Linked DNA regions of Homo sapiens: all the other regions are linked to region 1. Evidence: fine-mapped expression QTL. A gene starts in region 1. Each other region holds a variant in brackets. All regions are shown on one strand. Distances are between the middles of the regions.

Region 1 (5,134 bases):
GGTGTCCATGTATCTGCACACGAGACTCACGTCCGTGTATCTGCACACATGAGTCACGGTGTCCATGTATCTGCACACACGAGACGGTGTCCATGTATCTGCACACGAGACTCACGTCCGTGTATCTGCACACATGACTCAACGTGTCCGTGTATCTGCACACAGGACTCACGGTGTCCGTGTATCTGCACACAGGACTCACGGTGTCCGTGTATCTGCAAACATGACTCATGGTGTCCGTGTAATCACCTCCTACTGTTTCATCATATCCTATAACCAGTTTCTCAGCTTCCATTCTGCTATCCTACAACTACTCTCCAGTAATCCTATGTGTAGGACCCTCCAATAACCCCCACATCACTCGGAGCAAAGGCCAGAGGCCCTGCGGCTCACCCCTGATGTCCTCCACCTGGTCCCCACAAGCCTCTGGCACCCTGGTCTCCTTGCTGCTCCCCCTGGGCCTGGATGGCTCCACCCCAGGGCCTTTGCATGGAGGTTCCTTTTCCTCAGACCCTCTGCCCCAGATGTCTGGGTGAGCAACCACCTCCACGCCCTCAAGCTTGGTCTTCAACATCACCTGTCAACAAGCTCTCTTTTCACTACTTAAAAACCACAGCTCCCTCCCTCTCCCACACTATACTTTCTATTTTGTTTCTTTACCTCTCTTTCCTTTTTCTGTGGCCTGCATTACCTGGCTGTGTATGTATGTATGTGTGTATGTGTGTGTATGTATAAGTGTGTATGTGTGTGTATGTGCATGTGTGTGCATGTATGTGTGCATGTGTATGTGTGTGCATGTGTGTATGCATGCATGTGTGTATGTATATGTGCATATGTGCATGTATGCACGTATAAGTGTGTATGTATGCATGTGTGTATGTATGTGTATGTATGTGTGCGTGTATGTATGCACACATGTATGCATGTGTGTATGTGCATGTATGTATGCGTGCATGTATGTATGCACACATGCATGCATGTGTGTATGTATGCATGTGTATATATGCATGTGTGTGTATGTGTGTATGTGCATGCATGTGTGTATGTCTGCATGTGTGTATGTGTATATGTGTGTGTGTATTCCATAGCATGTTGCCCTCTGACATGCTGTGCATTTTTCTTGTTTATTGTATTATTATTCATGGCCTCACTTCCCCACCAGGATCCTTGTTTACGTTGCTCATTGATACATCCCAAGTACCTGGAACAGTGTCTGGTATATCGCGGATGTTTAGTAAGTCTTGAGAGGCTCACTGAGTGAACAGTGTTAATTTTCATGGTTTAAAACTTTATATAAATGGTACCATACTCGCTGCCGTACTTGCTGTCGTACTCGCTGCCGTACTGTGCACTTGCATTTTTGCTCCGCGTTCTGTTTTTGGCATTTATCCACATTGATCCATGTAGCTCTCATTTATTTTAACTGCCATGTGGTATTTCGCTGTATATGCCCATTTCTTTATCGCTTCTCCCCGTGTTGGATATTCAGGGTGTGTCCGGTGCTTTGGACACACAGTGTTGTGAGGAATATTCTGTACGCATCTTCTAGCACATGCATACTTCTTGTGGTAGTTTCTCTCTCACAGTGGATGGCCTATTAGAATGACTAGGGAATTCTTAGCTATTAGTTTGTTCCCAGAAGTTCTGGTTCAATTGATCTGGTCTGGGTTCAGTGCTGCAGAAATGTTTTTTCTTTTAAAGACATTCCTGGATGACTTTAACGACAGCCGGGGTTGAGAACCACGGCTCCTGGCTCGAAGGAGCAGATCTATGTTTGTGTTCTTGGGCATATCTAGAAAGAGATATGCTTTCTTTCTGGCTTGTCATCTACTTGCTTCAATTTTCCTAAAGGTTGCTTTCAAAGTGGTGGCACCATGCGTGATCCCAGCGGTGAATGCAGATTCCCACGTTTTCATTAACATTCTTTAAGTTGTTTGACCCTTGGGGTTTTCTGATAGGATGAGGGTGAAACGCATCCTCTTGTTCCCACAGCGTTCCCCTAATTCCGGGGGCTGAGTTTATTGATCGTTCAAGCATCTTCTTTTGTGACGGGACCGCTGATGTCCTTGACTCAAAGATGTTAAAAATACGTTTAGAAGGATCTTTATTTTTTCCTGCTGCTGTACGAGGCACCCTTTCTGGCCCCGTGTTTCCTTGCCCTTCTTTCCAGCAGCAGATTTTACTCAGAACAACTTCAGTGCTGTGGACACAAAGACGCAGGCCTTGGAGAGGCGGGTCAGCCCTGCCTCGGGGCTGCTGAGTGAGGTGCCAGATGCGTTTGTTCCTCATTTACTCATTTGCGTTTGTTCCTCATTTACTCGTTCCTCGCAGACTGGGTTGTAACACCATGTACCACCCTCTGAACCCAGAGATCAAGGGCTGGCTGGCCCTGTAGCCCCAAGGAGCTCCGTCACCGGCCAATGGGGAGGCGAACCCGTGGTGACCCACTCAGCGGCACCGCCAAGGGCTGAGCGTGGCGCCAGCGGCGGAAGGCCCGGGGTCACCGTCCCAGGCCGGGGCTCCGACCCCGAGTCCGCAGGGTCCTCTCCAGGCACCTTCCATCTGGGGTCTGGCTTCCACTCCCGGCCGCGGCGTCCTGATTTCCAGAAACCAGGCGGCCGCTGGAGGGGAGAAGGGGGAGCGGGCGCAGCGGGGGAGGGAGGAGAAGAAACGCCGGAGAAGGGAGAGTAGAGCGAGGAAGGACGCGAGGCGGGCGGAGCGCGGGGAGGTGCAGGGGGCGGGGAAGGGGCGGCGCCGCGAGGGCGGCTCCTGGCGGCGGGACTGTGGCTGTGGCCCCGGGAGAGCCGGGTGGGGCCTCGGGATGCAGCCGCCGGTGCCCGGGCCCCTGGGCCTGCTGGACCCCGCAGGTGAGCGCGGGGCTGGGGGCTCGTCTCGGCTCCTGCGGGGGAGCGTGGGGACCCCGGGGCTGGGACTACAGGTCCCCGGCCGGCCCGGGCGGAACCTGCGCGGAGACGCGGCACGGGGTCTGGTCCCTCCGCCTCCTTCGAGCTCTGTCTTTGGAACACTTTGCATTTCGCACTGGGGTCGGGCGTTCGTCCTACCGGTTCGTTCATTCATTCTCTCTCCCTGTCTCTCTCTCTGTCTCTGTCTCTGTCTCTCTCGCTCTTTCTGTCTCTGCCTCCTCAGTCTTTGCCTTTCTCTGACTCTGTGTCCGTTCCTCTTGGCCTCTCTCTCCCTGTTACGTTTTATTATGAGGAACAGGCGCCCCAAAGTGCGCTCCTTCCCCATCTCTTCCGTTTATTCCAACCTACACCATTTTCCGGGAAAACTTCGTTTGGAAGAGCGAGGTAGCCTTTTCCTGTTTGAACGTGCAGAGGCGCTCACAGAACTGGACAGTGTTGCTTGGTTTCGGCTCGCCCCTCTCTCGTGTTTCTCCCCGGTGTGTTCACGGAATCTCCAATTCTTCCACTTCCCAGACCAAGCCCGCTGCAGCCTCGGAGCCAGGCAAAGGCTGGGAAAACAGGAAACCTGTTGCGTGTTCACCAGTTCGCAAGCCGGGCTCGGGGGCTCTGCCGGGAAGTGGCCAGGACTGGAAGGATGCCGGGTGTCTTCCTGAGGGGGAGAGGGCTGGGCAGATTTCAGAACAAAAGAGAAACAGAGTTCCCTAGAAAGTGAAGCCCTGACGGCTGGAGGGAGGGATGGAGTGGTGTCTAGGGGGCTCTGCCGCTCCCTCAGAAATAATCCAACACAAACTTCTGGGGATTAACCTCACAACCCTTTTACTGCGGCATCGTTCGGAACCGGACGAATTACTGTTACTTAAAATAATCAAATAATTTGGCTTCTTTCTAAAAGAAACCACTATATGCCTTCCAATCTAAAGCAAAATGCTCTATGGTCAAATGTATTAATGTGGATTAGTCTATTGGTGTTTAATAATGATAACTATTATTATTATTTATTAACTAGTTTTATCATTATTAGAATGCCTTAATGTTTAAAAATAGCATCTGACTTAGATTTTCTTCTGACAAAGAACTTTAAACCTTAAAACAATACTTGGAGCTGGTCTTTTTAGTATATGAAACATTGGTGTATCTGGGTAGGATTATGGGTCTTTTTGTTTGGAGCTGGTCTTTTACTAAAATGTATAAAGCATTGGTGTGTCTGGGGTTGGATTATGGTCTTTCTGCTTTGGTGTGTCGGGGTGGATTATGGTCTTTCTGCTTTGGGGTATCTGGGGGTGGGTTATGGTCTTTCTGCTTTGGGGTATCTGGGGGTGGATTATGGTCTTTCTGCTTTGGGGTATCTGGGGGTGGATTATGGTCTTTCTGCTTTGGTGTGTCTGGGGGTGGATTATGGTCTTTCTGCTTTGGGGTATCGGGGGTGGGTTATGGTCTTTCTGCTTTGGGGTATCTGGGGGTGGATTATGGTCTTTCTGCTTTGGTGTGCCTGGGGGTGGATTATGGTCTTTCTGCTTTGGTGTGTCTGGGGGTGGGTTATGGTCTTTCTGCTTTGGTGTGTCTGGAGGTAGATTGTGGGTTTTTCTGCTTTGGGGTATCTGGGGGTGGACCATAGTCTTTCTGCTTTGGGGTACCTGGGGGTAGGATTATGGGTTTTTCTGCTTTGCCCTTCTTTGTTCACTACCCTGGGCATGTGTAAAATCAGGACGAAAGAGGAATTGACGGCTGAGTGATTACAGTTTTACCTGGGATTGTTACTTGGACACCATGACTGGTGTCCCCACATGATTAAATGGAACTCACTCTTCTTTTTGGGCGTTCCAGGTCCGGCTGGCAGGAAGGCCGGATCTTAGAACCCTTCCAAGCAGTGCCACCTCCCATGCTTTGTGACATTCCCCTTCCTGGCTCTGTGGAGTAGAGGAAATGGGTCTGAGGGGCAGGAAGAACCTGACCTCCAGCCTCGCGTGTCTTCCAGGTAGGACCTGGCGTGGGCACAGGCTCATGTGGTTCAGCTCCTCCAGCTAAGGCTGGGGAAGGAGCCAGGAAGGGGAGAGCAGGTGGGATGGGAGAAGTGGGGGCTGGTGGGGAGTGACAAGGTGATATTCTGAGATATCCTAGATGGGCTGCACCTGGGGAAGACTAGAATTAGAAAAATCAGCGCACTTGATAGCAGAGAGGTAGCTGTTGGCCCCTTCAGCTTCACATCTCAG
Region 2 (5,134 bases), 43 kb after region 1:
GGATTTCCCTGAGCCACCGACAGCGGCAGTGTGACCTCATTTCTCTTTCCAGGTGAGTGAGATGCGGGGAGTAATGACCCGCGGGCGGCCGCCGCCTTCGCCAGGACCGTCGGAGGGCACAGCTCTGTGACGGCGCTCTCTGTGTGTCTCGCACCTGCCCTGTGTGGATTCCTGGCTTTAACTAAACGCAGCCTCTCATCCTCAGCACGCGTGTCAGAGGAGGAGGAGCTGGAGGCCCTCTCAGTGGCCAGCACCTGCCAGCTTGTCTGGGACTCTCCAGCAGCTGCCGGGAGGCATCGTGTGTGTGTGTGTGTTTATGTGTGTGTGTGTGGGGGGGGGTAGGCAGGAGGCGTCCCGTGTGTGTTTAGGGGGGAGGTGTCCTGTGTGTGTATGTGTATGTGTGTGTGGAGGTGTCCTGTGTGTGTGTGTGGGGGGGGGTAGGCGGGAGGCATGCCATGTGTGTATGTGGGGGGGAGGCATCCTGTGTGTGTGTGTGTGGAGGTGTCCTGTGTGTGTGTGTCAGGGGAGGCGTCCTCTGTGTGTGTGTGTGTGTGTGTGTGTGTGTGTGTGTGTGTGTTGGGGGGTGTCCCCTGGCCAGGGCTTTCAAGGTTGTCACACAGAGGTGGCAGGTGTCTCTTCTGAGGCTGCCAGTGCTCAAGCCTGGGGGGAGAGCGCCCTGGGACGGGGCCTGTTCTGCCGCCCTCCGGGCTCTCAGGCTTCTGTGCACCCCACGCCGAAGGCCTCCTGGGCTCTGTCCTTCTGCCCACGCACCCTGATATTTCCCTCTGCTCCTGGGATCATGGAGAAGCAAGGCCTCTCCTCTGAGCCCCGATTATCCGGCCTCTGGGACCAGCCTGTGCCCCTGACCCCTCCTGCAGGAAGGGTCCTGGCCCCCGAGCCCCCAAGCCTCTGTGTCTGGAGTCGGGGGAAAGTCGGGGGAGGCAGCTGCTTGGCTGGGCCTCAGTGGCCGCTCCCAGCTCCCATGAGGCAGCCCTGCCCTTGGTGGGGTGGGTGAGGTGGTGGGCACCGGCATGTGACCTGACAAGGCCTCTCTGCCCCAGGTCACCTGTCACTCCCTGGACGGCAAGTGCCAGCTGAAGGTGAGAAGCAACACCTGTTACTGCTGTGACCTCTATGCCTGCGGGAGGTGAGGGGCACCGGGGACCCCCATATCTACACCTGCGGGAGGTGAGGGGCGCTGGGGACCCCCGTATCTACACCTGCGGGAGGTGAGGGGCGCTGGGGACCCCTATATCTACACCTGAGGGAGGTGAGGGGCGCTGGGAACCCCCGTATGTGCCTGCAGGGGTGAGGCCTCCATCCTTCTGCTCCTGACATCACCCCCCCCACACCCCTGCACCTACATCGTCTCCTTTACTCCTTAGATGTTTACATGAGGAAAGGACATTGAGTCCATTTCACAGATGAAAAGACAGAGGCTCTGAAATGTTGATCTGCCCAAGAGGACACAGCCCGTGTGTGTCGGGCGAGAGTTTAAACCTGGCCTGGCCTCTGAGGCCCCAGGCATGGCCCCCTCTTGGGACAGGGGCCCGTGACCCCGACGGCCTTCCCATCCTGGCGTGAAGACAGAGATGGCTCAGCCGGGGCCCAGACACCCGTCCTGCCAGGCCATCGAGGCGGAGGGGCGGGCCCGCCAGGCCCAGTTGCCGCTCTTTGCCACTGTGGGCCCCAGGTGGGGAGCCTCACAGGCCAATCCCATCAGACATAGGTTTGATCTCCCAGAGCAGTGCAGGGATGGGCGTTGACTGGGCTCCAGCCCTGATTTCCTCCCCCAGCCCTGCAGGGCTCAGGTCCAGAGGACACAAGTTTAACTTGCGGGTGGTCACTTGCCTCGTGCGGTGACGCCATGGTGCCCTCTCTGTGCAGCGCAGAGCCCTCGCCCGCCTACTATGAGTTCATCGGC[G/A]TCAGCGGCTGCCAGGACGTGCTGCACCTGTACCGCCTGCTCTGGGCCTCTGCAGTTCTGAACGTCCTGGGCCTGTTCCTGGGCATCATCACCGCCGCCGTCCTGGGGGCCTTCAAGGACATGGTGAGGCCCCTTGGTGGGACCCCCGCTGCTCACTGGGAGCCGGGGCTCCGGGTCCATTTCCCCGGGGTGGGCTGGGGGGCCTCCAGCCCTCACTTTACAGATGGGGCACTGAAGCCCATGCGTCTGTCAGCAGGGTGTCAGGGTGACAGCTGGCGTGCACCGACTCACCTCGGGGCCGTCCTGTCCCAAGCCTGTCACAAGAATCACCTGATTTAATCCTTGCCTCCCCGCTGAGGTGGGCACAGCCGTCCCCAAGAAACAATGTTCAGCTCCAAGAGGGAGGCCCAGCCCTTGTGCACTAAGCTCCCATCATTAGCAACTGCCTGGGGCTTCAGATGGGCAGGTCTGGGCTGGGGCTGAGCTGATGCCTTAGCAAACCCCAGAGGCGAGACCCATACAGCCAGGATTGGCCTGGGCAGGAGGAGGGAGGGAAGGGGCCCCTCGCGGGAGGTGGGCTGGACCCATCCTGGAAAGGCCGGCCCTCGCCCGGGAAACCACAGGGAAATCACTGGCCCGGGCCGGATGTCCTCTCTCTTCTCCCTCCTCTGCCCTCTCCTGGCGCCTGTTTCAAACCAGATGTTCTCGTGGTGTGCGGCCAGCAAACCCCGCCCCCTGAACTTGCAGAGAAGCTGTAAGGGATGGGCAGCCAGGAGTGAGGGAGCCCCAACCCCCAGAGTATCCAAACGGCAGCCCAGGGACGAGGGGCGCCCCCTCTTGCACCCACATGAGGAGGCCTGGCAGCACCAGGCAGACGCACATCATGCAGGCCAGACCCGGCCCAGCGAGGCAGCGAAAACACTCCTGAGCGGCTTCTCCATGCCCTATTCGTCCCAGAGGCTGTCCATGACTAAAAATTAGCTCAGCTGGGAACCCTCCTGCCATCTGCTTCTCAGCTCCTCCTTTTCTCAACACTTTTGTGCTTCCAGACAAAACTGGTGAAGCTGAGAGTGACCCTGGCATCCCGAGGTCCAGCCCTCTGGCTCCCCACCCAGTGGCCCCCCAAGCCCCACCCTGGGCCCCCAGACGCCCGCACACCAACACAAGACAGGCACCTCCCAGGGGTCCTTGCTCTGTGGTGACAGCCGGCCGGCCCCTGCGGTGGGAGCGGGAGTCTGGGGTCGGGAAGGGTCTCTGCCGGGATCTCGCGGGCTCCGGGCGCCTTTGGCGTCTCCTCGGTGCAAGCTTCTCTGCCTCGGCAGCTCAGTGTCTCCTCTCAGCGGCCGTCCCAGGAGGAACTGCAGCCGGATTGTAGACAGGACACAGAAACGCTTGTCTGGTGCAGGCGCCATGCTCGCCACACAGGCCCGGGGTGTCCAGGGTTTTCCGGAAGGGGCTCGTGTGTTCATTAAAGCCCGTGATAAAATGCTGGAGTGCAGGATCAGGAACAGGTGATACCTCCAGGGCCAGCCCGCAATGCAGAGCCACACCGGCTCCAGGAAGTCTTCCTCGAACCCAAAGCTCAGGGCTGCAGAGCAAGGAGAGGACTTGCTAACCTTCACACCCACCAAGCAGGCCCTCTTGTGAGTTTAACTGATTTTGCCATTTAAACATTTTGTTAAGGAATGAAGATGCTTCCTTCATTCCTTAACATTCCAAGCTGGACGTGCCCTTCGTAGACGAGGGCAAATTACTTGTGATGGGTGCGTGGGAGGCACTTAACGTGCCGGCAAGGGCGGGCGGCTGAGCCAGCCTCTCAGGGGCCTCCTCCGCGTGTGACTCCGTGGCCCCCGTGTTCTCTGCTTTCTGTGCACTCGCCCCGGCCCCATCCTCAGGCCACCGCCAGCTCAGAGGCCTCCCCACCCCTCTACCTGTCAGAACTGCAAATCTCCTGCCCCTCCCTCACGGAGCACGACCCTCCATGCCCATCCAACCTCCCAGGCCCACCTCGGCTGCCCCCCTGCTCTCTGCAGGGTCTGAGGCAGAAGCACGGCCTCCTGCACATGTGGACCAAGGACCAGCTGCCCAGAAGGCCCTGCCCCTTCCCACCTTCCAGTGCCCGCTGGGCAGGGGGCTCCCTCCCAGCCCCAGGGGTGCGGGCAGCACCGTTGTCTGAGGACACCTCAGGCCTGGGGTCATCACCCTGTCCCGGGGTTTTCACCGTGTCCCCGGGTTGTCACCGTGTCCCCGGGTCGTCACCGTGGCCAGCCCCTCGCAGCGGCTCTGGCCTGGCTTCCCCGCCTTTGCCATCTTCCCCTGGCTTCCTCCAGGGTGCTGCTGAACCTGGGGGTGGGGGCTGGGGAAGGTGGAGGGGCACCTGTGTGAAGGTGGGGAGGGAGGCGAAGCCCGGGTGCCCTCGGCCCAGTCCCCGCGTTTCTGGCCCGGGGAAGCCCTGAAGCTTGTGTGAGCCATGGGCCCCTCCCTCTGTAGGGGATGAGGCCGGCCGGGGCCTGAGTTGGAGCCAGCACCTTCTTTGGAGAATTTTAACTGCCTGAGTGAGTCAGTGAAAGTGTGGACGGGAGCTCAGGAGACTTTGGTTTTGTTCGCATTCCCCAGAAACCCCACGCTGGTTGGGGCACAGGCTTGGGGAAGCGAGAGCCATCAGCCCGGTGCTGAGAGGGCCCTCCCCACCTGCACCCTTCTGTGCCGAAAAAGCAGACTTTGGGGCCCGGAGAGAAGGAAACCAGTGCTTTTTTCTCCCCCCCCAAAAAATCAAAAAAGTAAAAGAGAGCCCGAGCCGAGCGGTCACCCAGTGTGACTAGCAGGTGGCGGGGCCCTGGGACCAAGATGTAGAGAACCTCAGTGTAAAGCTACGCCGGGCCGGGGTTAGCTCCAGCCTGGGTATAAACGCACGCCGGGCCGGGGTTAGCTCCAGCCTGGGTATAAACGCACGCCGGGCCGGGGTTAGCTCCAGCCTGGGTATAAACGCACGCCGGGCCGGGGTTAGCTCCAGCCTGGGTATAAACGCACGCCGGGCCGGCGTTAGCTCCAGCCTGGGTATAAACGCACGCCGGGCCGGGGTTAGTTCCAGCCTGAGAGTCGGGGGTCGAGGGTGCTGGGCTTTCTAGGAAGGCTGGACAGCCCTTCCCTCCACTAGGGGGTACACGCCGACCACCCGTCTCCTCTCCATGGCAGGTGCCTCTGTCCCAG
Region 3 (5,134 bases), 54 kb after region 1:
CAGGGAGGGGGCAGGCTGGAGACCAGGGAGGGTGACGCTGCCCCGGGAGTGCCTAGGCCACTGGGGCAGAGTCCACTTCTCCTGGGGACCACAGCCTCTTTCCTTAACGCCTTCAGTGGAGAGGAGGGGCCGTCCGTGTCCAGGGGCTGAGGCACTGTACGCAAGGGTGTCAATCACACCTGAAGATGCCTCCACGGCAACACCCAGATGCGTGTGTGAGCCGCTGAGTCAGCCACGGTGACACTGAACCAGCCACACGCTGCTGGACGTGTGGACGTGTGGGGTTCATACGTGGGGCCTTTCCCAAATATGAAGAGTTGGGTGAGCCCAGGGGCCCCAGGCCTGGTGGACCCTAACTGTTGGTTTTGGAGTCAGGTCAGAGGCTCGCTGGCTGTGAGGAAGTGGGATGTGGTCTGAGGACACCCTTCCTGGGGCGTCCACCCCCTGCCCCATGCAGCTGTGGAGGCCAAGGTTGTGCCAGTGAGGCCCCGGCCACCCTCTCCTGTTCTGCCCCGGGCTGGGGCTGCTCCTTCTGGTGGCCCTGGGTCTGTGGGGTGGGGGCCCGTGAGAGTGGTCCTGGGTCTGTGGGGTGGGGGCCAGTGAGAGAGGTCCTGGATCTGTGGGGGGGGCCGGTGAGAGAGGTCCTGGGTCTGTGGGGTGGGGGCCCGTGACAGTGGTCCTGGGTCTGTGGGGGCCCGTGAGAGTGGGCCTGGGCCTGTGGGGGGGCCGGTGAGAGTGGTCCTGGGTCTGTGGGGTGGGGGCCGGTGAGAGAGGTCCTGGGTCTGCGGTGGGGGAGGGGGACGTAAGAGTGGCCCTGGGTCTCCGGGGGAGGGGAGGGGCGTGAGAGTGGCCCTGGGTCTGTGGGAGCCCGTGTGAATAGCCCTGGGTCTGTGGGGGGCCCGTGTGAATAGCCCTGGGTCTGCGGGGGGCCCTGTGTGAGTGGCCCTAGGTCTGAGGGGGCCTGTGTGAATAGCCCTGGGTCTGCGGGGGGCCCATGTGAATGGCCCTGAGTCTGCGGGTGGCCCTGGGTTGGCGGGGTGGGTGGGGAGCGTGTGAGTGGCCCTGGTATATGTCAGGCTTCCCTGTGGTCCGGCACGGGGTGGTCTCACCTGCTAACCCAGGGCCCTCTCTGTTTATTGCAGCCCTGCAGCCGCTTCCCAGTTGCGCCCTCCTCTGCCCTGGCTTCGTCTGAGGACCTGCAGCCCCCTTCTCCAAGCAGCTCTGGCTCTGGGCTTCCCGGCCAGGCTCCACCGTGCTACGCACCCACCTACTTTCCCCCGGGGGAGAAGCCACCCCCCTACGCACCCTGATAGAGGCGTGGAGTAAAAGATAACTTGTTTGTTTTTTTTTTTAAAAAAAAGGCAGCCTCTAGAAATCCCGCTTCTGTGGCCAACCTCCTAGAGAACCCGGGAGAATGTTCCAGAAGTCTGTCCCCTCCTTTCCTCCCTGGGCACACTGGTGAGGGAGGCTGGAACCAGGCAGGGAGTGGGGCCCTCCAGACCCAGGCTGGTGACACCTTGGCTTGGGCTCTGCTCACATCAAATGGCGCTGAAAGTTCCCACCCGGCCTCCTCCTCTGAGAGCAATTGTTCTGGTGTTTTCACATCCCTTAATTAATTAGCTATTATTATGATTTTGCAAAGACAGTGCAGCCCCGGCCTCCCTGCCTGTGTGTTCTTGTTTGTGGACATGTGTTGTGCGTTACACGTTCGTGTGTGCATCTGTGTCCTGGAGAAGCGCAGGGCAGAAGCCACCCGCCCCTCGTGCTGTGCTCCTGACGTATGCCAGGAAGGGAAGGACGCTTCGGCTCCAACGCCCAGCGCTGTGTCTAACCGCCTGTGAGTTGTTAGAATCCAGGGGCCCGGTTGTCTTTCCCAGCCCCGGATGCAAATCTGCCTGGGCCACTGGCACGAGGGTCTTCCCCTGAGCTGTCTCCCAGCTACGGCGCCTGGGCTTCCGCTGTCCTTCCGCGGCTTCTCCCTCACCGCACCTTGTCTCAGGACCCCTGGCCGCTGGGATGGTGGGGGACGGTGTTTCGGGGTCCTTTGGCTCAGGGTCTGGGGCCGCAGCACTCCCTGTGGAAACCAGCTTAGCTCCC[C/T]GCGGGCCCAGCATGCACCTGCCGGGCACACCTGGGGAGACGGGTGAGCACGCCTGGGAAGCAGCAGGTCCCGGGTGGGTCACAGGCCCCGGGTGGGTCACAGGACAGGTCTCAGGTGGGTCACAGGTCCTGAGTGGGTCACAGGTCCCGGGTGGGTCACAGGCATCCCGGGTGGGTCACAGGTCCCGAGTGGGTCACAGGCCCCGGGTGAGTCACAGGCCCCGGGTGAGTCACGGGTCCCGGGTGGGTCACGGGTCCCGGGTGGGTCACGGGCCCCGGGTGGGTCACGGGTCCCGGGTGGGTCACGGGTCCCGAGTGGGTCACGGGTCCCGGGTGGGTCACAGGCGCCCCAGTGACAGGAGTTCAGGATGCGCCACCCCAAAGTAGCCGAAGTCTCTTGAAAAGTGTTGGATGTGGGGAGAGGCTTTCTCTGAACTCCTGAAGTCAGATCCTCAGGGAACCAGGGACTCCCAGGGCGGGAGGGCGGGCGAGAGGTGATCCCATTGCTCCCCAGACGTGCCACAAGACACCAAGTCGCCGTCTCTGCTCTGTGGGCCGCTCACGGTTCCCCAGTCACTCCCTCTCCCCTCGGAAGCTGGCGCCTCCAGGCCTCACCGCTCTCAGGGCCTCACGTCCCTCCCTGCAAAGCCCCCCGTGCCTACGATAAACAAGTACCGCTCTTCTCCCGTGTGGGTCTGAGGTCTCCAGCTTACTTCACGGAACAGTGCCCACCTGGGAGGTGGAGCGGGGACTTTCTCCCCTGCCCAGTCCTGGATCTGGGAGAAAAAAGATAAGGTGGAGGGGAGCCACACTCGTGCAGACACAGCCTCCTGCCCCCTCTGCTGCCCGGGAGCCTCCCTCTGTCCGATGGAGGGTCTCACACAGCCTCTGCCCCCTCCGCTGCCCGGGAGCCTCCCTCTGCCCGACGGAGGGTCTCATCCTGTGTCCAGCGCTCCTGGGCAGAAGGCCCACAGCGCACATCCACACATGAACGGTGGCTGGCTGGGCCCAGGGGCCCTAACGGGCCTCTGAAAGGCCTGCAGCCAGCTCTGGTCTGTGAACCCGCCACTGCTTGTCATTTTTATCTTATAAAATCCAGCCTCACAAGCTTGCTGTCCAGGAGAATGTGGTCTTGGCCTCTCAGGGCTGACTGGCCTTGAACCAGTCCGGGAGGTCGGGCACGAGCCGGAGGTGCGGCGTCCTGTCTGGAAATCACCGCCCAGTTCCTCCAGGGCTGTGGGTGCCTGGCTCCGAGTAAGAAGCTGAACAAGCAGCAGAGACCAAGAGGTTTCTGGAGCGCCGGGAGATGCACTCACGAGCGCCTGTGGGGGAAGAAAAGTGTGCCACGGATTTCCCGAGTCCCCAGGGCTCTCACTTTACCTCAGGGAAGGCTCTATGGGCGCCGATGGTGCCGTGGTCTTGTGTGGGCGGTTCCTGGGCACCCTGGAGCTCGGGCTGTGCCCCCGAAGCTGCCTGGTGCAGGCACCAGCACCTCTTGGTGTCCTAGGGGTGCGAACAGCAGAGAAGCTGAACTGCAGGTCTGGGCAGGGAGTCTATGCCCCCTGGAGCTCTGGCCAGCAAAGTCACAGGAATAACCCTCCTTCCCCTCATGTCAGCCCTCGGTCGCAGGGTGCGGTGTGGGGGCATCAGAGTGCTTCCCCGAGGCTGCACTCACCAGCTTCCCCCAAACACAACATCGATCTTTCCCGACTTTTAATCTTGTCTAGAGTCAAAAGCTGTTCAAAAATATTCAACTCCAAGGTCAACAGTTTTGTTCTTGCCACAAAAATGTCCTTATCCTTTATCCCAGCCACAAAGAATGTGAACAATTTGACTCAAGGTTCGTGGTGGCTGGAGGGTCCCCCAGGTCCCAGGGCAGCTCCCACCTGGCGCAGGGCTCCGGCCAATGCCTGGCCTGCAGTGTGGGCGGCGGCTGCTCTCGAGGTGCACCTGTCTCATGTGGACGGATCCTGTCTGGGGCCACCAAGCTCTGCCAGCCTGAGTCACGGTCTGATGAACCCCCTCTCTGGGCTCCGCTGGGGCCTTCTGATCCCAGCCTCCTCTGCAGGGATGGGCTCCCAATCCCGCCCTCACTTGGTTCCCATGCACAGCCGAGGTCAGTGAGACCCTGGAGGCCGCGGGAGATGGGGTGGAGGGGATGGTGGGGCAGGGGGTGCTGGGGGGTTTGGGGGTGCTGTGGCCCCGGGGCAGGGGGTGCTGGGGGGTTTGGGGTGCTGTGGCCCCACCTGCACTCCCTGCCTCACTGGGACAGCACAGGAGACAGGCTTCTCCTGCAGCTCAGAGGTGGGGGCCTAGTGTAGCTGCAGGTTGTGACTGAGGAGGGCAGGGTCAGAGCATTGCCCTGGGCAGGGGTCCGTTGAGACTGGCCCCACCTTATTAGCTTGGGACCTTGGGTTACAGGGAGTCTCCTCCTGCCTCAGTTTCTACATTTCACACAGCAGCACTGCTCACAAGAGCTCCCAAGCAGAGGCAACTACTGAGTGGGGGAGGGACACAGTCCGTCCACATGGGGCCAACGGCCACAAAGAGAGGAAGGGACATGGGTGACGGTCCGTCCACGTGGGGTCACCGGCCACGGAGAGAGGAAGGGACATGGGTGACGGTCCGTCCACGTGGGGTCACCGGCCACGGAGAGAGGAAGGGACATGGGTGACGGTCCGTCCACATGGGGTCACCGGCCACGGAGAGAGGAAGGGACATGGGTGATATGGTTTTGCTGTGTCCCCACCCAAATCTCAACTTGAATTGTATTTCCCAGAATTCCTGCGCGTTGTGGGAGGGACCCAGCGGGAGGTAATTGAATCATGGTGGCTGGTCTTTCCCGTGCTATTCTCGTGATAGTGAGTAAGTCTCACGAGATCTGACTGGTTGATCAGGATTTCCGCTTTTGCTTCTTCCTCATTTTCTCTTGCTCCTGCCGTGTAAGAAGTGCCTTTTGCCTCCCACCGTGATTCTGAGGCCTCCCCAACCATGTGCAATTGTAAGTCCCGTTAAACCTCTTTTTTTCCCAGTCTCG
Region 4 (5,134 bases), 65 kb after region 1:
TCACCACGTGGCCGGCCCCGCCTGGCCCCCCCACCCCCGGCAGCGCTTGTGGCCAGCCCCGGGTTCCCTCCGAAAGGGCAGGGTTTCCCTTTCTTCTCTAACTTCTCGGTCCCCGTTCGTTTGGCCGCAGACCCGGCAGACAAGCAGGAGGCATCTGCCAGCCTGGGCTCTGCAGACGCCAGCCCTCCCTTCCCCGCTGGGAGCACAGACAGTCCCATCGGTTAAACGTGATCTTCTTCTGTGCCCAGTGAGTCATTCAGGCTGCAGGCCTCCTGGCTCGCTCTCATCCTCTTCAAAGCTCTGTTTATTAAAACTAAGTGGAGTCTGTGTCTGGCAGCCAAGAGAGAAATCCTGCCGTTTGCCGCAAGTGAAAACCTGCGGGCAGCCGAGGACTTGCCGGCTCCCACGTGCCTTTCCGCTGACCCTCCCAGCTCATGGCAAGGACATCCCCGGTCCCAGCCTCTGTGCTGTGTAGCCCATGGGACACGGCAGGACGCCCTGCTGGACATGGGAGGGGCTGGCGGTCACTCTGTTCGCTGCTAACAGCTGCGGTGACAGCCGCGGGTCCCAACTGCAGCCTGGCCCGAGGTCTGCCCAGCCCTCTCCCCCGGGGCTGGTCTGATGGGTGTGGACGAATGCTCCCTGAAGATGCAGGTTCGTGGGGCCTGACTCAGGCCAATGCCGGCCCCCGTACGTGTTTCTCAGTCTCAGCCAATGACCTGACCAGCACCGAGACACCATAATAGCCACTAACGACCCACCTGGACTTCTCCTTCCTCTTAAAACACAAGTCCTCTTCCGCATTCACTACCAGAAACCCCAGCCTGTCCAGGTTAGATCTGGGGTGACCAAGCTGGGCCTCCCTGGAGCTCTTCACCCGGGTTGAGCGGAGCAGGGAGCACCTACCTGGCAGGCCGCCAGCAAAGGTGAGCACGGGGCTCCGCAGGTGCCTCTCGAGCACGGCCAGCCTCTCCTGCAGCTGCGCGGCGCTCACCTCGCTCTGGCCCCTGGTGCCGTCCACCTCCAGGGTGGCCTCACCGTCCCTCAGCGAGACGGTGACCACGTGCTCTTGGCCGTCGCAGACCTTGATCTCCATTAGGGCCAAGGCCGTATGCTCCACGGCCAGGACCACCAGCTGCAGGAGACCGAGGTGTGGTCAGGGCCTGCCGGCCACCCCTACGTGAGCTGTTAGGTCCAAGCTGGTCCTCACAGCTGCTGGCCACCCCTACGCCGCACGCCTGTCTCCGTCCAGGGTTCCCTGCAGCCCTGGGTCTGGATGCTCGCTGACTGTGGATGACACCCCCACCCCACCTGGGGCTCAGCTTCTCTGCACGTAAAGCCAGGGGCCAGCCTGGGAGGCTGTGGGGGAACAAGTGTGGCCCCCAGGTTGGGTGTGAGAGGGTCAACCCCAGCCCCAGGCACCAGGCACACACAAGACCGAGGCTGCACTTGACCAGGAACTGGGGTGGCCCTGATGGGGACCCAGGACCCAGCCCTGCGGTGGCGGCCTCCCAGCCCGGTGGGCACTCACGCTGGCACCACAGCCCAGCAGCCCAGGGGTCGGCTGTTGCTACATAACAGCAGCTGTTTATTCCAGATGCTGAGATTGGGTCTGGCCCTGGTAACGAGCATTTGCATGAACCAAGCCTGTCTGTCGTATCCCAGCAAGCGGGAGGGCTCTGTGGCCCCGGGGTGGGCAGACTTGGAGAACGTGAGCCTCTCTGGTTTGACCCATGTCTCCCTCCTTAGCACACGAGCGAGAGAATAAAAGCTGTTTCTGTCACCTCTTGATTGTTCTGTGGGGAAAACAGCATGAGTCCCCCAGCCCAGGACAGCTGACTTATTGTGAGGACCGGGGGTGGGGGGACCTTGTCCAAGGGGCAGCTGCACTCAGCTCCACCCGGTGTCCCCCACGGAAAGACGCTGTTGGGGGACCGGCCAAGGTCACAGATCCGACTTTTCCAGGGAAATTGGAAAACTGAGTTTGTTGCTGAAATCATCTGACTTAAACACCAGAGACTAATTCAGATTGCTGTGAGCCACCATCTGCCCAACCGAACAGGGGAAAAGCTCCCACACTGTG[A/G]GCCGAGTGTGGCTCGCAGGCGCCGGCCCCCTCAGCTGTGTGGCGGTGACCTGGTGTCCAAACAACCCCCGCAGCCCGAAGCGTGGCCCACGCCGGGCTTGGCTCATCAGACCTCTGGTCAGAGGCTTTGGGGGTCCCTGGGGATCCCACCGCGGGCCCCCTTCGTCCCCTGCCAGGGAGTGCAGCCCACGTACCCGTGGGTCGAGCCGGTCAGGACGCCCTGGGTGGCGGAGGCCCTACCTGCTTCTTGAGTTTCTTCGTGGAGTGATAGTCTACCAGTGCCACAGAGAGAGGCACGGCACGGAGGTCGGGGGCCCAGAGCGCAAACAGCACGCCTGTGTCTGCGGCTGGGCGGATGTGAGCCACGACTTCTACTTCCCAGGTTGATTCAGTCCCGACGTCCAGAGGGGTCCGCACTGCAATGAAAGCGGTGCATTATAGGGTGGTATGCACGGTGGAGAGGCCACAGTGAGGTCGGAGCAGGGCCTCGAGAGATGCAGTCCCAGCCGGGGTGGGAAGCTGTGCAGACAGCCCCGGATCTGGGACGTGATGGAAAACTCAACAGACTGGTTCAGATCTTGGCCCGGAGCCCAGAGGCACCGGGGACCCCCAGGCTGTTTCTCCCTGGCCACACCAGTACCCCACTTCCAAATGCCCTGTAGGTGACCACCAGGCCACACAGGCCCGTCTGAGGGGCCACAGGCTGTGCACCATGGGACGCAGGCCTGTCCCTGCCTCCCTCCGATGTCCTCTTGTTTCAGGAGCGCCTGACAGCTCCTTCCTCAGAGCGTGCGTGGCCTCGTGCCTCGCATCTCACCTGCAGCTTTCAGGTAGCAGCACAGGGCCCAGTGGGGGCTGAGAGTTTAAGATAGCATGCGGACAGGAGCTGTCATGAGCACGGTGGTCTGGGGTCTGAGCTGTCAGGAGCACGCGCGGTCTGGGGTCTGAGCTGTCAGGAGCACCCGCGGTCTGAGTTCTGAGCTGTCAGGAGCACCGTGGTCTGGGGTCTGAGCTGTCGGGAGCACGCGTGGTCTGGGGTCTGAGCTGTCAGGAGCACCCGCGGTCTGGGGTCTGAGCTGTCGGGAGCACGCGCGGTCTGGGGTCTGAGCTGTCAGGAGCACCCGCGGTCTGGGGTCTGAGCTGTCGGGAGCACGCGCGGTCTGGGGTCTGAGCTGTCAGGAGCACCCGCGGTCTGGGGTCTGAGCTGTCGGGAGCACCTGCGGTCTGGGGTCTGAGCTGTCAGGAGCACGCGCGGTCTGGGGTCTGAGCTGTCAGGAGCACATGCGGTCTGGGGTCTGAGCTGTCGGGAACATGTGTGGTCTCCCAGGGAGAATGCCACGGCATATCCTCTCCACGCTGAGCCCTCCGTGGACTAAGAAGCCAGAAGAAAAAACTTCCGCCCTGTTTTCAGTGTTTCTATCTCACCCAGAATTCCAAAGTCCTGATAAAGAAGCTGTTTTAGGAAAAAGGACCCCAAATCACTGTGTGTACACATTTGTGACTGGGCGCCTCGCACTGCAGGCCAAGGTTGGGGTCAGAGTGAATTGTGCTGGTTTCCCTGTCTCTTTCCCACGGGGCTGTGTACGCCTGAAACCCACATCGCCTGTCCTGCCTGTCCCTAGCTGGTACCCGCCACATCAGTTCTCAACAACCATTTATGGCACCGAAACACACAAAATCAGAAAAAGTAACAAAAATATTGCAACAGAATCAAAAAGTAACAACAAAAAGTCTCCTGTTTGCCGGTCTTCCCATAACCTGTGAAGGGAGAGATGATGGTGTTCTTTAAAATGGAAGCTCCCAGTCGGGCGTGGTGGCTCACGCCTGTAATCCTAGCAATTTGGGAGGCTGAGGTGGGTGGATCACCTAAGGTCGGGAGTTCGAGACCAACCTGACCAACATGGAGAAACCCCATCTCTACTAAAAATGCAAAATTAGCTGGGTGTGGTGGTGCATGCCTGTAATCCCATCTACTCGGGAGGCTGAGGCAGGAGAATCGCTTGAACCTGGGAGGCGGAGGTTGTGGTATGAACCTGGGAGGTGGAGCCAAGATCGTGCCATTGTACTCCAGTGTGGGCAACAAAGGCGAAACTCCGTCTCAAAAAAAAAAAAAAAAAAAAAAAAGGAAGCTCCTGACAGGAGGCTAGGCACATGTTGGCCATCGGGGCTTCACAAGGGCACCGGCCTCTGCTCTCCCCGGGAAGGTTTCCCGGCTCCACGTGGCCCCTTGCATGGAGGCTGCACAGACCCGGAGATCTGCAAGCCTGAGCCCAGCAGAGTCGCTGCAGAGTGAGCCAGGCCAGTACTACCATTCCCAGCAAGTCTCCTCTGTCTTGTAAGAGACGTTACTGGTATAGTTTGAGATTCACTGGAAATGCATGGAGCTGTAACTGCTTCTGTCCGGATAGACCAAAAAGGGCCGGCAGACGCGGCCGGCAGTCACTGGAAATGGCCCCTGTGATGCCTGCATAAGGTTACCCCTGAGAAATGTGTATGATATTAAGTGGAAAAAGGATTTAAGCATTTCATATGACATGATTTCGTGTCAAACATTATGATGCTCTAGATTTGGAAGTCCAAAAATCAAGACTGAGGGAGAACGCGTGTGCACAGTCAGTCCAGCCAGTGGCAGATGGCGCTTTTCTCAGATGCCTTTCCTGACACGGTCACGCTTTTGACACCCGGGGGGAGACGGTGACACTGGATCTGGCTCAGGACGGGGCAGGACCCTCCCCTTTGCTCCGCGTGGATCCCCTTGAACCTGGGGTTCCTGCTGGGTGCTTGAGGGCCGGCAGCCCTGAGATCTGACGGAGGGGGCGCTGCCTGCCCTCTGTGCGTGTGGGGGCTTCACCATAAACGGCTCGGTGTCCAGGAATAGGGCAGGGCTGTGGTGCCCCAGTGGGGCCCACGTGGGGTGGGAATGTGAGGCAGGGTGGGGCCGAGCAGTAACACTATCCTCACAGCAGCACCCCCGGAGCCTGCACTGGGGAGGGCGGCAGCGTGGCGTCACAGGACTGGGCCAGCAGCTCACATCCACCCTGTCCTCCCTTT

The links. PIP is the estimated chance that this variant, and not a neighbour inherited with it, causes the effect.
Region 2: its variant is fine-mapped to the expression of TMEM255B in whole blood (INTERVAL, PIP above 0.99).
Region 3: its variant is fine-mapped to the expression of TMEM255B in whole blood (INTERVAL, PIP above 0.99).
Region 4: its variant is fine-mapped to the expression of TMEM255B in whole blood (TOPMed, PIP above 0.99). The same link has a PIP of 0.9 or more in T cells.

The regions. Positions count from the first base shown.
Region 1 is chr13:113,756,449-113,761,582 of GRCh38, forward strand. TMEM255B (transmembrane protein 255B) reads left to right here and starts at 2,778. Exons shown (of 9, transcript NM_182614.4): 1 at 2,778-2,867. The coding sequence starts at 2,822. RefSeq lists enhancers at 1,938-2,439, 2,996-3,497.
Region 2 is chr13:113,799,766-113,804,899 of GRCh38, forward strand. It overlaps TMEM255B (transmembrane protein 255B), which reads left to right. Exons shown (of 9, transcript NM_182614.4): 6 at 1,062-1,147; 7 at 1,888-2,047; 8 at 5,120-5,134. Among named protein-coding and RNA genes, the nearest start is that of GAS6-AS1, 13 kb to the right of the region's middle. RefSeq lists enhancers at 1,395-2,269, 3,975-4,533. The variant G/A (reference allele first, on the strand shown) is at 1,925.
Region 3 is chr13:113,810,594-113,815,727 of GRCh38, forward strand. It overlaps TMEM255B (transmembrane protein 255B), which reads left to right. Exons shown (of 9, transcript NM_182614.4): 9 at 1,143-5,134. The coding sequence ends at 1,310. GAS6-AS1 (GAS6 antisense RNA 1) reads left to right here and starts at 5,017. Exons shown (of 5, transcript NR_044995.2): 1 at 5,017-5,098. RefSeq lists enhancers at 4,901-4,970, 5,021-5,134. The variant C/T (reference allele first, on the strand shown) is at 2,098.
Region 4 is chr13:113,821,052-113,826,185 of GRCh38, forward strand. GAS6 (growth arrest specific 6) reads right to left here. Exons shown (of 15, transcript NM_000820.4): 13 at 2,324-2,499; 14 at 907-1,135. The region is part of intron 1 of GAS6-AS1 (GAS6 antisense RNA 1); the gene reads left to right. Among named protein-coding and RNA genes, the nearest start is that of GAS6-AS1, 8.0 kb to the left of the region's middle. RefSeq lists enhancers at 1-91, 641-1,189. The variant A/G (reference allele first, on the strand shown) is at 2,084.